Homo sapiens: one gene and its partner. The protein of the gene in region 2 purifies or fractionates together with the protein of the main gene of each other region. This does not show direct contact. Each region holds a gene or a part of one and is shown on either strand. Other genes may lie near its edges.

Region 1 (3,500 bases), on a different chromosome or scaffold from region 2:
GGAAAACGTTCAAAGATACCCTGAGATAAGATTTTTTCCCCCAAAATCAAATAAAGCTTATCATTATCAGTAAGTATTCTCTCATATTTGAAGACATTTATTATAATTATTTAATTATACACTTAACAGTTAAGTTACCTGAACAAAATAAAAGTTAACCCAACAAATATTTATTGGGAGCCCACTACGTAAAGATAGTTTGTTAATGAACATTTCAGAAGATGAAAAGGGAGTATTGAACAGTCTCACTGTGCATAAAGCTTATAGTCTAGACAAAAAGATAAGGAAAGGAAGAGCTAACATTTATTAAGTCCTTAAACACCTTATTTGGTTTCAGGTACTATATTAGATACTTTACTCACCTTATTTCCAATAATCCTCACATATGCTCTGTGAACTAGGAATTACTACCCTTCCTACTATTACAGAGAAGTAAACTGTGATTCTCAGACCTTAGAATCCAAGGTCTAGGAGTTATCTAAGGCTTAGATAACTTCCCCAAGTCACACAGCTGCTAAGTTGAAGTTGAGGTTTGAACCCAAGTCTGTCTCAGCACCCATGCTGTTTCCACAACACCACGTGGTATTTCAGGTAGAAAACTCAAATGTAAGGTACATATGATGAATGTTATTAAACAAGTAAAAATGAACCATGGATTTCAAGAGAGGAAAGGGTCACAACTATGAGGAAATTATGAAAGGCTGCATTTTGTAGGTAGTTTTTGACATGTGTCTTTAAAAATGGGTAGGAATTTGACAGACAGTAATAACTTGAATAAAGATTCAGAAACTAAAACCCTTGGACATTCTGAGTTTCGCAATTCCCATAGGTCTACAGGAGATGTCCAGTAGACAGCTAGACATTCTGGGCTGTCTGGGGCACAAAGATACCAAGACTAGAGAAAAATACATTTGTGAGGCCTTATAACCAGAATTTGTAGCTAGGTATATTTGAGAAGAGAGATACCAGATGAAATCAATCAATATAACTTATTTTTTAAATTGCTACAATAAGATTGTTTTCTGAATACATCCAATAATAGAGAATCCTATTTACAACTAACATTTTTTCTTCTCTCAGCAGTTACAATGGTTGGAATAGGGATGCTTATTCCCTGAGAATCTGGGGTCTAGGGTGAGTAATTAAAATATATATCATTGTATAAAATAGATTCAAAGCCATTTACCCCCCTTTTATATCAATAGTTAAATTTACTGTGGGTTAAGGTTCTAGCATTTTAAATTACTTAGTAAAGTATTATATTAACCAAGATAGTACTGTACTTTATTACATTGCCCTTCCTTGACATCATTTTTAACTTAGAAAGTATTACAATATTATTGCATTTCATATGTTTGCTTTGGTTTTATATAATGAAAAATGATTTTGATCATTTGCCACAGATTTTTACCTCAAGTATCCACAGATCTAACACCTCAGACTTTCAGTGAAAAAGTTCTACAAGGGAAAAATCATTGGGTGATTGATTTCTATGCTCCTTGGTGTGGACCTTGCCAGAATTTTGCTCCAGAATTTGAGCTCTTGGCTAGGGTAAGTCATACCTGTCTTAAATAAGTTGTAGCCACATTCATGTTTTAGTAATTAGATAAAACATTGTAAGTATGTAATTTTTAGGTTTTTTTCTTAAATGTTTCCTCTGAATTTAAAAATAGCTATTATATTTCTATGACTGTAATGGTTGTAGTAGATTTCCTCTTTCTTTGTTAAAGCTTTTAGCTAACATCTTCTCTATCTTGGTAGACATCATCATCTACTAGCCATAAAAGCCAGAAACGTCTCTTTCTTCTCCCTCTTGTCTACTTTCTCCTCCCCACCCCAGTACTCTGTTGCCCTCCAGGCAGTTACTAGATTGTGTCAGTTTTATCCCCTAAATGTCTTTCAAATGTCATTTCTTATTCATCTCTACTGCTAACCTGTTTCTTCAACCCTTTATCATCTCTTGTCTAGACTTAACCATATTTGCCTTTTAAGTGCAGTCTTCCCTTGATATACTCAGGGGATTGGTTCCAGGAACCCCCATTCCATACCAAAATCTGTGCAGCTCAGGCCTCACAGTGGGCCCTCTGTATGCAGGGTTTCACATCCTATGACTATTCTGTTTTCCATCTGCAATTGCTTAAAAAAAAAAATTCCCAGTTCAAGCAGTTCAACACAGTTCAAGCCTTTGTTGTTCAAGAGTCATCTATGGTATTATACTGTCTACCTTTGTCAGTGCTGCCCTGGTGATCTTCTAAAATATTTCCCTCTCTGACTTACTAAGTTTCTTAATATGCATACATTGACTTCAGGTGTCTGATATGAGCTCTATCTCTATTGTCCACCTCACACCTTAGATTCCAGTGTAACAGAGTACTCCAGGTTCTCTGAACATGTGTCCTTATTTACATGCCGCTCCCTCTCTCTAAAATGCTCTGTCCTTACCTTGGTCATCTGTATTTTTTCTCCTCTTACTGCAAAACTCAGCTCCGATGGCACTGCTCTATTCTCTGCCCTTCTCAGTTAATCAGTGTCACCTGGATATGTTATCAAGTGTACTGATACAGTGCATATTAATTCTTTATTTATTATTACTTGAAAGATATTTAATTTGACCAGAAATAAAAGGAGCTGGATACCAATGGAAATAATTAGTTGTAGCAATTTTGGGTTTTGTTCGGTTGGTTGGTTTTATTTTTCGGTATAGCATTGTCCATCTTCCTTTGTAAATGGCTGTCTCTTCCTGAGGGCAAAGTCCATGTTTTATTTATTTTTATATCCTCAGGGCCTAACTCAGTAAATGCTTATATAAAATTAAACTGAATACATACCCTCAATGCAGTCTGAGCTTTTGGTGTTTCTTTCTGTCGTAACAGTCTTATTAGTGACCTAATCCAGATTGATAGCTTTCTTGCCTCCATAACTCGAGGAACTCTTGCCACTAGTGTTGGTATAAAACACTCAACTGGAATGAGAAAGTCAGCTCCAGTTCCACCAGTTCACACTAAAGCTTAGCATCCCAGGCCATGGGAATTTTTTAGCAGAGGGATTTTAAAGGTCTTACTAGCTATAAAAGATTATTTTTGTTATTAGCTGGTGCATCAGATAAGAGGTTTATTCTTTCCATTCTAATCTTCTTATGCTTCCTTCTGTAATAATTCTGCTTTACTCCATTTCTCATGTACTAAAAACTTTAGTTATAAACTTTGTAATGCAACTCTATATTGTATCTAGTAGAAAATTATTAAACATGAAAAAGACCATTTATTCAACAAATTTTAAGTACCAAATGAAAAGCCATTATGCTAAGTAGTAGGGCCACGTAACTCCACATGAAAGAAAAGGAAGATGAAAAGAAAGAAATTCCATGTCTTTAAGGAGATTTTAATCTAGTGGAAAGAGAAAATGGAAATAAATATAAGTAATACAAGATAATTGCTACAGTAAAATTAGAATGAAGCTGGAACAGGGGTAGAAGGGTGTCAGTGATGCCAGAGAAGGAT
Region 2 (3,500 bases):
TTATAGTCCCTTGAATTGATGTTACTCTGTGGTGTGTATGTGAGATAACTTTTCTCCTCATTCATCAATGTTTAGGTAGTTTAGAATTTTTACTGAAAATTGTTACTACAGTTTTCCCACAAATAACCATTTTTTCCAAAAAGCAATTTGAAGGAGTTTTGCTATTATTTACTTTTAATGTTATAGAAACACTATATTGAAAAAGTACTTTTGATATGTGGTACTTTGGGTAGTTCCTATGTCAATGATTCAGATATGACATCGTGTGACATGATGCCACTGATTTTAGAGAAAATATTATTAGATATTTCCACAAAAGAAAGCTAGATTTTTCTTACCCAGGCCTGAGTTATACCCTATGTATGTTTACTTACTGATCCGTATTCTTTTACTCTTATGTTAACTTATTTTATTGAAGTAATAATGTACTTAATTTTAAAAGTCTAGCAGTACAAGAGGACTTACCAGATACTTCTCTTACTGTATTTATTCCTCAAACCAACTTTATGAGGCAGTCCTTGGTCTCATGTGCATTTTAATTACAAAGAAACAAGACTGTAGAATTGTGGAAAGTTGCTTAGTTTCACATAGGATACCAAAGATCCAACTGATTTCAAAAGACTCCAGGATTTTTACTTGACTGAAGAGAGAGAGGCAAAGAAAAAGAATTCTCCACTTAGTGGACCTGGCCCTTTTTGTGTGGGTGCCTAGCTTGTCCTGGTTAGTGGAAGATGCCTCAGCTAATACTGCCCCTACTCGATTCACTCTCCAGTGGCCTCTTCTTCTCTATGACCACTGTCATTCATTTAGGGTACCTGAATGTGCAGGGCTCCAGGGATGAACAGTCTTCATATGAAAAGTTAAAACAGTATGATAATGCTGGCCGAGCACAGTGGCTCACACCTGTAATCCCAGCAGTTTCTGAGGCCGAGACAGGTGGATAACTTGAGGTCAGGAGTTCGAGACCAGCCTGGACAAACATGGCTAAACCCCATCTGTACTAAAAATACAAAAATTAGCCTGGCATAGTGGCGCACGCCTGTATTCCCAGCTTCTCGGGAGGCTGAGGCACAAGAATCACTTGAACCCAGGAGGCGGAGATTGCAGTGAGCTAAGATCGTACCACTGCACTCCAGCCTGGGGAACAGAGCAAGGCTCTGTCTCAAAAAAAAAAAAAAAAAAACCAATACGATATGCTAGTGCTTCTTTATCATGGGTGACTTTACCGCCCACTGCCCCCCCCCCCCACCCGGCAACATCTGGAAACATTCCTGGTACCACAGGTCGGGGGTGCTACCAGCATCTAGTAGGTAGAAGCTAAGGGTGCTGCAAAATGCCCTACAGTGCCCTAGACACCCCCACACAGCAGACAACTATCCCGCCCAAGACAGCAATAGTGTTGAGTTTAAGAAACACTCCTGAACACAAAGCTATAAAACACCAGCAAAATGTAGGTGAACAACAACGTATATGCTAAAAAACGACTTAAAATCATCACTAGAAATTTTACAGAGTTATAAGATAAAATTCTAAATGGAATATCAATAAAAGGACAGTAACAGGTGAGATACCAAAGAAAAATAAAGATGTCCAGTAAATATACGAAAATATGATCTTACTAGTTAATTACAGACCAAAAAACCCAGTTGTTTCTTAATGAACAGATTGCCTAGGATTTTTTAAAAATTGGTTATATTCAGTGTTATCTATGGTATGGAAAATCAATGATACTTTATCTTGGGGGAAGGATAAGACAGGGAAAAATTGAAAAGAAAATCTGTCGTACATCATAATTTGGAAGTTGCATATTCTTTGACATTGTGATTTTTCACTTCTTGGAACTTACCTAAGAAAATAGGTGGGTAATATCTATGCAAAAAGTTGTTCTTTACAGCATTTATTATGAAAAGGAAAAACCTAAAATATAATACACTTTATATGTGTTTAACTGTAATAAAGTTGAATATGGTCTCTTAAGAATCTGACACCTTTCCCTACACATCTTTTTCACATTTCTCAGTGCTATCCCTTTTCCAGTGGACCTTTATTGCAAGATTTAGGTGGAGTGTGTTTGATGTTGTAGGAGGCAGTGACATTCAAGGACGTGGCTGTGGTCTTCTCTGAGGAGGAGCTGCAACTGCTGGACCTTGCCCAGAGGAAGCTGTACCGAGATGTGATGCTGGAGAACTTCAGGAATGTGGTCTCAGTGGGTGAGGACAGGCATTCTCTGACTGAACATTGGCTCCCTCTGTTGTCTCTCTGTCCTTGGGTATACAGGGCTTTGGAGCTCTTGAACTGGTTTTCAGTTTTCTAATCATCCATCATAAGACAGATATGGAATTTTTAAAGTCTTTCTCCCCTGGCAAAAGTGTGTATTTTGTTAATGAACCATAAATTGACAGCATGACAACTATACACTTTTATCCTTTCTCAAATTGTGGTCATCTCCAGTTAGTGGGTCCTGATATACATTTGATGAATTGTACCATTGGTTTTTTTAATGAAATAAAATGGGGTAGAAAATGTCAGAGCACTTGGCAATAACTGCACATTGCAGCAAAAACTATGTCCTGTTGCCAAGAAGAATGTGAGAGACAATGGAGGGGGTATGATGAAAACATTTTTTTTCCCAGTAATTTATACTTATATCTGCATATCTTGGGTCTTTGCATGAAATATACTTCCTCCAATGGGTCATGATTAGAAGTGTGGAAAACACTAAGTTTGATGTCCTGAAGACGATGAAATGAGGACAATAATTTTGAGTAATTTTGGCTTCTGATGTATTAATTATAAACCTATGTCCTTGCCTTTTCACAGGGCATCAGTCCACACCAGATGGCCTACCACAGTTAGAGAGAGAAGAAAAGCTGTGGATGATGAAGATGGCAACCCAGAGAGATAACTCCTCAGGTGAGGAGGGGCTGGGGCTGCTGGACATTTTTCTGTTAGCCTTGGAGATATTCCAAGGTTGGCAAACAAAAATGTGTGACGAAGGCATAGTCTAGAACAGTTTTTTTCCCCCTGATGAATATCTAATCTAATTCTAATTTATTGGGTGCTTTTGGATATATGAAGATCTGTATTCATTAACCCACTTAGTTTGCTCAGGATGCTAAAACAAAATACTACCGACTGGGGGAATTATAAACAACGGAATTTTATTTCTGACATTTCTGGGGGCTGGGAAGTCCATGTTCAAAGCACCAGCAGATTCAGTGTCTGCTGAGGGCCCACTTCCTGATCCAATGACAGCACCTTCTTTGCTGCGTCCTTACAGGGAAGGGGCAAGAAATCTCTCTCAGGCCTCTTTTATAAGGGCACTAATCCTATTCATGAAAGATCTGCCCTCATGACATAATCACCTTCCTAATGCCTTAGGAGTTAGGATTTCAGCATACAAATGGCAAGGGCACACACATTGAGACCATAACACTCACATCTAATGAAAGCTTAGCTTTAGTTGTAATCAAATTGAGTATCATTTCCCCCTTGTGGCT

Evidence for each region. The genes of interacting proteins can lie anywhere in the genome.
Region 1: the proteins of ZNF45 (region 2) and DNAJC10 purify together in Homo sapiens (co-immunoprecipitation; one large-scale study listed by IntAct). This does not show direct contact.

The regions. Positions count from the first base shown.
Region 1 is NC_000002.12:182,757,757-182,761,256, forward strand, and holds part of DNAJC10 (dnaJ homolog subfamily C member 10 isoform 1 precursor), read left to right. Parts: coding exon 1-69; intron 70-1,080; coding exon 1,081-1,134; intron 1,135-1,403; coding exon 1,404-1,551; intron 1,552-3,500. UniProt on the Homo sapiens protein: Endoplasmic reticulum disulfide reductase involved both in the correct folding of proteins and degradation of misfolded proteins.
Region 2 is NC_000019.10:43,918,283-43,921,782, reverse strand, and holds part of ZNF45 (zinc finger protein 45), read left to right. Parts: intron 1-2,020; exon of another isoform or gene 2,021-2,083; coding exon 2,084-2,210; intron 2,211-2,820; coding exon 2,821-2,913; intron 2,914-3,500. UniProt on the Homo sapiens protein: May be involved in transcriptional regulation.